Regions from separate parts of the Homo sapiens genome. Here all the other regions are linked to region 3. The links come from fine-mapping of genetic effects on gene expression. A gene starts in region 3. Each other region holds a variant in brackets. All regions are shown on one strand. Distances are from middle to middle.

The links. PIP is the estimated chance that this variant, and not a neighbour inherited with it, causes the effect.
Region 1: its variant is fine-mapped to the expression of TMEM215 in putamen (GTEx, PIP above 0.99). The same link has a PIP of 0.9 or more in anterior cingulate cortex, caudate, prefrontal cortex and substantia nigra.
Region 2: its variant is fine-mapped to the expression of TMEM215 in tibial nerve (GTEx, PIP above 0.99).

What each region holds. Positions count from the first base shown.
Region 1 is chr9:32,884,898-32,887,655 of GRCh38, reverse strand. No RefSeq gene overlaps it. Among named protein-coding and RNA genes, the nearest start is that of TMEM215, 100 kb to the right of the region's middle. The variant A/G (reference allele first, on the strand shown) is at 1,455.
Region 2 is chr9:32,722,670-32,725,427 of GRCh38, reverse strand. All of the region lies in intron 4 of LOC105376017 (a long non-coding RNA gene), which reads left to right. Among named protein-coding and RNA genes, the nearest start is that of TMEM215, 59 kb to the left of the region's middle. The variant C/T (reference allele first, on the strand shown) is at 1,242.
Region 3 is chr9:32,782,301-32,785,058 of GRCh38, reverse strand. TMEM215 (transmembrane protein 215) reads right to left here and starts at 1,519. Exons shown (of 2, transcript NM_212558.3): 1 at 1,254-1,519; 2 at 1-933. The coding sequence starts at 875. The coding sequence ends at 168. LOC105376017 (a long non-coding RNA gene) reads left to right here and starts at 2,153. Exons shown (of 7, transcript XR_929559.2): 1 at 2,153-2,416.

The DNA.
Region 1 (2,758 bases), 100 kb before region 3:
GAAAGATTTAAGTTAGATATTCCAAGCTTTGAAAGATTCAGAGATGCCAGTATCCATCCATGGTCATAGGTGGGAGGAGTTTTATCTTGGAATCTGTAATAAGAGAGCAAATAATCTGTCTCCTTGTTTTACCCCTCCAGGAATCAACCCCATGATTCAGGGTTGTTTCTCTTTAATCAATCATACGCCCTTGGTTTTGAGTATTTTAATCTGGATGAGGGATGTTGTTTTAAGATTAATGGAAAATAAATATGGTTCATGAGCTATATTTTTCTTGCTGCCATGTACTCTCTAATGAGGTAAATTACTTCTCCTTATTCCAGTGGAAAGATCAAGTTCAATGTTTAGTACACCAAACAGCCCTAGGGTATTTATCGTGTATTATATATTTTTTCCTTTTGCTCTACAGCTGCAACTTCATGGATCTGTGCTGAAGATACCCATAGATCCTGGGGTTCCCAGAGCAACAATGCATAAACTAGAAAGAATCAGCTGGAAGGGATGGAATGTACCTTGGTTGTCTGATCCCTTGTTTTATTGCTATTCCCGGTGGTGTTGGTCCACACAGGTGTGACTTCTCTTATTGCCCATATCAGAACTGGAAAGAGGTAAGCTGCCCTGGAAGCCTAAACACCATGCTACCAGCAGAAGGTAAGGAAGCGGAGTGTCTGTTCAGCAGGTCTGAAGGTGACTCTAAGCTCTGTGAAGGCAGAGCTTGCTGTACCCACAGTGCCTAGCACCATTCCACAGGCACCCAATAAGTGCTGTTGAGTTTCTAAAGGTGGTTTATTGTTTCATGGCCAAACTTGTCTCCCTTCTTCAAGGGTCTTGGCTGAGTCTCTACATAGAAGCTCTAGTGATCTCTGCATTACAGCATTCAGAGTTTTTGCCTGGACAACCAGAGATGGTGAAGCTCTGCAGGCCTGGCTGGGTTTTAGAGTCAGGACTGGCTTTGGGAGTACAGGGAAGCCTGCAGACAGCATCAGAGAAGCCAGAGACTAGACCCAAGCTGATCTGAACATCAATCTGAAGGGCTGGGACAGAGGCAAACTCAGGTTTGAAGCACAGAGATGGAACAAGTAGACTTAGAAGATAGGGCAGGTGGTCACCTTGGATAGACTCCAAAGGGCTTGACTGAGACAGGGCTTTTGTGAGGCAAATGCATCCTCATTCAGGATGCTGAGCCTCTGAGAACAGAGTAGCTTTGGGTAGCAGCTTTTTCTACACACACCTTGATGCAGAGCCCCATGTTCCCTACCCTGCCCCCTTTAAGAGCTTGCTTTGTTTCCTGCCTAAGGAAGAGGAACTCTGGAGGTCCTCCTAGAACCCAGATAAAACTCAGGCTTTCATCTTCCCAGCAGGGAAGCCAGTTCTAGAATTGGCTGTGGCTTTGGCAGAGACCATCAGTACTATTGCCTCAATCATCCAGCTCCCCACGACTTCCCGCAGGCCTG[A/G]GATTGAAGCCAAGACCCATAGGCCCAGCCCTCTAGAAAGCAGGTTTGTCATCATTACCGGCCCTAGGAATTCACAAGCAGATCCTCCCAGCTTTTCCTCTTGGTGACTTCTGAGGGCATCACAGATGAAGCCTTTGTGCCAGATGGTCTCACGTTAGGCCCTGTGAAAGGAGCACTCACAGAGCCGTTGCACCTTTAAAGAATTGCCCATTTTCGATACCTGGCATATCACTTGAATAGAAGAAGTTTAACAGAATTAACAGTCTGTGTCTGGATGCAAGATGGTTTTAACCTACAATATATTTAGGGTGCTGCCCGTGCACCCCAGGGCTCCTTGAGGCAATTAAAACCGTGCCCTTGGCAATGTGGCTGACTTCAGTGGCTCTTTTGCCAGAGTTACAGCAGTTTCTCATCATGTCTGGAAGAGATTAGATTTGTGTGGTGTGGAGAGAGGACGCTTCTGACAACATGATAGGTCATGTTGGTGGAATTGTGGCAGGACCCAGAGTGCTCCCAGAAACTTCATTTTCTTCCAAACAAATGTAAATGGGGTTCAATTTACTGGTCAAATTCAGCAACTAGAAGAAATTACATAAACTGTGAAGCCACAAGGAGCAATTTTACTAAAAGTTATGTTGGCCTACATGGAGAAATTTAGGCCATGGAAGACTCAGGACCATTTTAAGCTTTATGTAGACTCTTTTGGAGGCATCATCACTTAGATCAAACGAATTAAAATGCACCCACATCTTGAATTAAATGTAAAATTTTCCATAAAAATGTTGAAGGGATTTTTATATTTTTGCCTTTGAAGTTATTTGCCTATACATGATTATTCAATTTACAATTGTCTGTGTCTACTCTCCCGAGTAGGCATAAATCAATCAGTGTGCCTACTCAGGAATTCTTGCAAAACAAGAGAATCTAATCTACAAGTGTTCTCACCTGTAATAAATTTATAAATGAATAATAAATTTAACAATGACATTGACATAATGTTACATTTTTCAGGTAGTTAATTAAATGGCTATTAATTTCAATTTTGTTATCTGTATCTTGGAACCTTTTTTTTTTTTTTCCATAGGCCCCTGAAAAGCAATGGACCCTAGCCACTGAGTTTCGTGTGCCTCACAGATAAAATAGCTCTCAGGGAATTTGACTCTGATGTTTAGCTCAGGAATAAAAGATTTAAAGGGTACAGGATTACTGTTTTCAAGAAGTAGAAGGTCTGTATGTGAAAGAGGGATAAGACAATTCTATGGCACTCCATGGGACTGGAGCAGGTGGCTCTCCAGGGCAACATA
Region 2 (2,758 bases), 60 kb after region 3:
GATGACTACCATCTTTATGATGCTGTCTCAGGGTCAGCCACGTAGCCAGGGGGAGGGAGAGGGAAGTGGGTCACTCTCTACTCCTCTTCTACCTGCTTCAACCATAGCATCTTTGCTGTTGCTTTTTAAAAAGTCTGTTTTGCATACCGAGGTTCTATATTAGGTGTGGTTTGAAGAAAGTGATTTGTCGTTTGCTGCTAAATCAGAATATTTAGAAACCACAAACTTAAGCTCTCTCAGTTTGTAAACAGTCTCAGAAATGTTATGTAATTTTTCTCATAGTCACACAGCTATTAATAGTTGGTAGAGGCCAGCACAGTGGCTCACGCCTGTAATCCCAGCACTCTGGGAGTCTGAGGCAGGCGGATCATGAGGTCAAGAGATCGAGACCATCCTGGCCAACATGGCAAAACCCAGTCTCTACTAAAAGTACAAAAATTTGGTGGGCATGGTGGTGCGCGCCTGTTGTCCCAGCTACTCGGGAGGCTGAGAATCAAGTGATTCTCCTATCACTTGAACCTGGGAAGTGGAGGTTGCAGTGAGCTGAGATTGTGCCACTGCACTCCAGCCTGGCAACAGACTGTCTCAAAAAAAAAAAAAGAAAAAAAATTGTTGGTAGAAAAATTGGGATGCTGCTGTCAGAGGCATTTTGCCAACCAACATATTTTGAAGCTTGATTGTGTATAAGGTCCTGTACAAGGCACTGCATAGAAATACAAAGATGACTATCTCACAGCACTCATAGTAATTTAGGGAAGATATGGAAAACATACACGAAAGAATTCATAGGAAAAAATGTGTGGCAGTCTGTATTTTCTGAAAATGTCTACAGCAAAATTTCTGTAGAACTTTGCCATTCTTCATTAAGAAGTGGAATCTATTTCCCCTGCCGTTGAACCTGGGCAGGCTTGGGAAGCTCCAGCCAAATAAATGCAGCAGAACTGGTAAGGCTAAATTAAAAGAGGCAATACAGTTCTCACACGGCACGCATTCTCTCTCTCTTAAGATGTTCAGCCTCAGAACGTAGCCACCTTGCTGTGAGAAAGCCCAACCATCTTGTACAGCGAGACCACATGGAGAGGCGCATGTGGAAAGGAACGGAGGCTACAAGCCGATAGCCAGCATCGACTGCCAGGCACGGAGAGTGAGTCTTCAGATGAATCCAGCCTCAGCCTAGAGTCTTTTGTCTCAGGCCCCAGACACTGTGGAGCAGGGACAAGCCATCCCCACTGTGTCCCACC[C/T]GCATTCCTGATCCACAGAATCTATGAGCACAATAAATAGTTGCTTTATGGCAGAGAAACTGGAACAGAGTGATTCTATCTGGGTGTTCATGGACAATGTAATGAACTGTGGGAGCAAGTGCTGTGAACTGCCTGGAATGTTTTCCTCCCACCTGCTTTCTCGTGTAACAATCCAGCCTCCTTGGCCTGGCTAATGATAATACTCTATTCCCTTGGGCTCTGTGGTTAGGGCAGGGATAAGCACATGACCCAAACAGGGCTCATCAGAGTCTTTCCTGGGATGATAAATGAACAATGACAGAGAAGGGGGAGGGTGTCTTATACTTCTGAGCCTGTTGGGCTGGGGGAGATAATGTAAAATGAAAGAGTTAGAGAGAAAATTCTAGTTGCATTAATCCCTAGGGTTCCCGCAGCCATCCCTCGGAACATGTAGGCCACCCCAGTATTCTTTCCAACCACTGAAACTAATACATTTTCTTTTACATACGTTAGATTTCTGTCCCTTTCCTCTAAGAACTCTGCCTGATTTAAAGGCTTTGTGGAGAATATGGCATTTGAACAAGGCCTTGGATGATGGTAGGGTATTGACATTCTGACATGGGGAAGGGGTTTTGGAAGGAGGGGACCGTGTCCACGGAGGCAGAGCAGTGCAGCAGCTGAAAGCATTAACTCCAAATGCCAGCTCCACTTCTTACTTAGAGAACTTGGACTTTACCTCATCAGACTGCAGTTTTCTCAACTGTTAAGTAAAATAGCATCTAAGACATGGAGTTATTGTTAGGATTAAGAGACACCCATAACCCATATTAGCTCTGAGTGTGGTGCATGTTGTTTAGTTGGTGGCTACCGTGCAGGACACAGCGTGTGGATGAGGAGCAGCACATGGCAGGAGTCTGGCCGAGAAAAAGCTGATTCAAGAAATGGAGTTGGATTGTGGGGACCTGGAATGCTCGACTGTGTTAGATGCAGTGAGGAGCATGGGCGTTTTATTAGCAGAAATGAACACAGATGTGAATACATGTGCCTCCCATATAGAAATCGAGTTTTGATAACAGAAATTCCATTTCAGTGCAGCATCAGCAGTATAGCCTTGCTAGTATACATAGTATATTTCAATGTACTTGTGAGTGAGGTTTGTTCCAAAAGTACATGGACCCAGATGACAGATGTTCTCCATTCTCTGCACGTGGAAGCACAGGCTCTGCTTTTACTCCGTGCAGATGTGACCTGGATGCATATGTCAGTTTCTCTTTGATTACCGTGAAGGACTGACTCATACGGAAGCATTGATGAGCAAATGTACACTCTATTAGAGGGTTTCATAGTGACAGTGTCAGTGCTGTATCAGATCTCAGCTCTACTTTTACTGTCTTGTGCTCTGCCCCTGCCCGTGTGGCTTCTCACAATCAGCATCTGCAACTCGTCTTCAGAGGGCTGCCCTCAGGCTATTGGAGCCCCCTTTCCTCTATAAAAGGGAGCGGGAAGTGCTTAGGAATTTATTCCCCTCCCCTCCTCAT
Region 3 (2,758 bases):
CCCAACATGCCTATTTACATGACTCTCGGGTACCAGAGGTTATCACACCCATCACATACCAGGTCAATTTCTAACAGTGTGAAGGCTCTCCAAGCAGAGCAATTTGCTTCCACGGGGAGCTGGGCTTAGTCATATTCTATCAATCCAGCCACCTTTGTAGGCAGAGATTAGACGATGGTCTCGTGGTCCCACCTGCCTTGTATCTGATTGATATAACAACAGTATCTGTCATACGGGCTGTTCTGCTTGTAGGAGCAAACGATGATACTGTCCTGGGGCACAAAGAAGATGCTATCCTCAGGCTCAGGGCACTCAGATCTGTCCCTTGCTGAGCACTTGACGTCCAAGGCACTGTAGGTGAGGGAACTGCCCGAGGGGCAGTAGCCGTCCAGGTATCTGGACGTCTCCTCCTGATGCCCATTCTGGACGAGGCTCTGGCATTCTCCTTCCTCCGTGGGTGTGGGGCTGTTGATGGAGCTGGCCACGGACACCTCACCCTGGCTTTGTGGGGGAGGCTTCCCCCTGAGGCCCGCCTTCTTAGCCAGCTCATCTGAGCTCCCCTTGCCGGATTCTAGGTCTGAAGGGGTCCTCAGCAGCTCTACCACCTCCTTGTCTTTGGGTTTCCGGAAGCAGGGCAATTTGCGGACCCACAGCAGCTCGTTCTCTGGCCACTTGGTGCATCCCTCGGTTTTCCTGGCCAGGGCAATGGCTGCGATGCCTGGTAGGCAGATGGCTGGCCCGATGGCCAGGAGGGGGATGTTTCCCAAAGTCTCCCCTTTCATCCCAGAGACGGTGAACATGAAACCAAAGACGAGGAAGACACTGACCAGGGCCACCACCAGCCCAGTCCTCGGGTTAATGTCATCAGGCCGCATGTTTCACTCCATCCAGGTTGGGGGCTGCTTGCTGACCAGGGAGCAGCGTTCCTCTATTCTGTCAGAGATGAAACCACAGTGCGTTAAAAAAAAATCCAAGTCAAGCTCCCACCCATCAACTCTTGTCTTTCTCTTGCCCTTTGTCTCCGACTTGCTTCTTGACTTTCAGTCTTGATCTCTGTCTCTGTATCTCTCTTGCAATCTCTCTATCTCTCTCTCTGCGTTTCTCTTGCAATCTCTCCCTGTTTCTATTTCTACTCTTTCTCTCCGTCCCCTCTCCCTCCCTCCCTTTCTTGTGCCCTCCCTCTCTTCCTCTCACTATTGCAACCTCCGTCTCTCTCTCATATCAACACGCTCCGGCTGGGGTCAACGAGGTACCTGAGGTTTCCTGCCCTCTCCAGGAAGTAGGGAAAGAAGCCAGGCTGTCTCCTCAGAAGCCCCCACAGCAGCTGCCCCCTCGGCTCGCTCCCTTGGTTCTGGGAGGAAAGCCTGGTTTCCCCCACGGACTCTGCATCGGGGAGGTGGAACCTGGGAGAGCGGCTCTCCCAGCAGTGCCCGTCGGTCCCGGTGCTGTGCAAGCGGAGCCCGGCGCCAGCTCAGCGCGCAGAGCGCGGGGCGCGGGAGGAGGAGGGAGCACTGAGTCTGGGAAAGAGGGGACGCGGCGCGAGCCTGGCCTTGTTACATCACTGTCAGAGCAGGCTCAGAAACGCAGACAGACGCGCGGGGGCGCGAGGGGGTCAGCCCCAGAGGGAGGCCACCCGGCGGCAGGCGCTGCCCGGGGTCTCGTCGGGGCTGCTGGGAGCGGCCGGGGTTTGTGCCGCCGCCGTTCCGGAGGCTGAGCAGGGCGACCTGACCCGCTTCCGTGCCCGGGAAGGGTCTGGGGCGCGAGGCTGCCAGTGGCCGGAGTCGGAAACCAGGGTCGGTTTGCCCACGGGGCAGCCGTTGCAATATCCGAGCTCGGGCTCCCAGTCCGGGATCCGAGGAGTTAGGTGCCAGCTGGAGATGTCCCTCCGGGACCCGCACCCTTCTCCAGTTACAAATCCGGGTGACTGACGGCAGGCCCAGGGGCTCCCCGACCGCCCTTCTCTCAACCCCTCGACTCGGGGCGCGGGGGGGTGTGTGTCCCTCGGGGAGCCGGTGCCCGAGGACTGCTTTGGTCCCGGCTCTGGGCGGTGGCGGCGCGCGAAAGCGCTCTTGCAGCGGAGCGACTGCGCCGCGGGAGCGCACAGAACCAGCGCCCAGGCGGAGTGGGTTAGTGGTGAGGGGTGGGTGCCAGGCTAGTCCGGGCCTTGGGGGAGTCCCCGGAGTCCCCGTGGCTTTCCAGCTCCAGGCTCGGGAGAGGGTGACCTTGGAGCCGGGATTTCACTTCTACAGCGCTGTGGTGCCGGGGGGACAGGGAGAAGGGCTCCCTGGCCCCCAGTTCACGAGGAGAAGGGGCCTTGACCGGTCAGGACCACCACCCTACGACGCCGCTCAGCTCTGGGCGATTCTCTCCTCCCTTGCTGAAGCAGGCATTGAGAGCCTGCGTTCCTCCCGCTCTGGTAGGCAGGGGCAGATGGATTCCTCTGGCCCCGGGGGGCAAGACTGGCTTTGGCTGTGATTCTTCAACAGGGCTGCCCATTTAGGATAGAGGAGGGCGGTGGAGAACAGGTTGATGAGCGGTACATGCTTTCATGTCAAGACACTGATTTACTGGAAAGAATTTTCACATCCAGGCCTTCCCCAGTTAAACTAGCTGTATATTCCTGGGCAAGTGACTTAACCTCTCTGAGAATCAGTCGTCCTATCTGTAAAATGAGATTAATACCAAATATATGAGGAAACATTGTGAGGATTAAATAAACGTAAAGTTCCTAGCACAATGCTTGGTACATAGTCTGTGT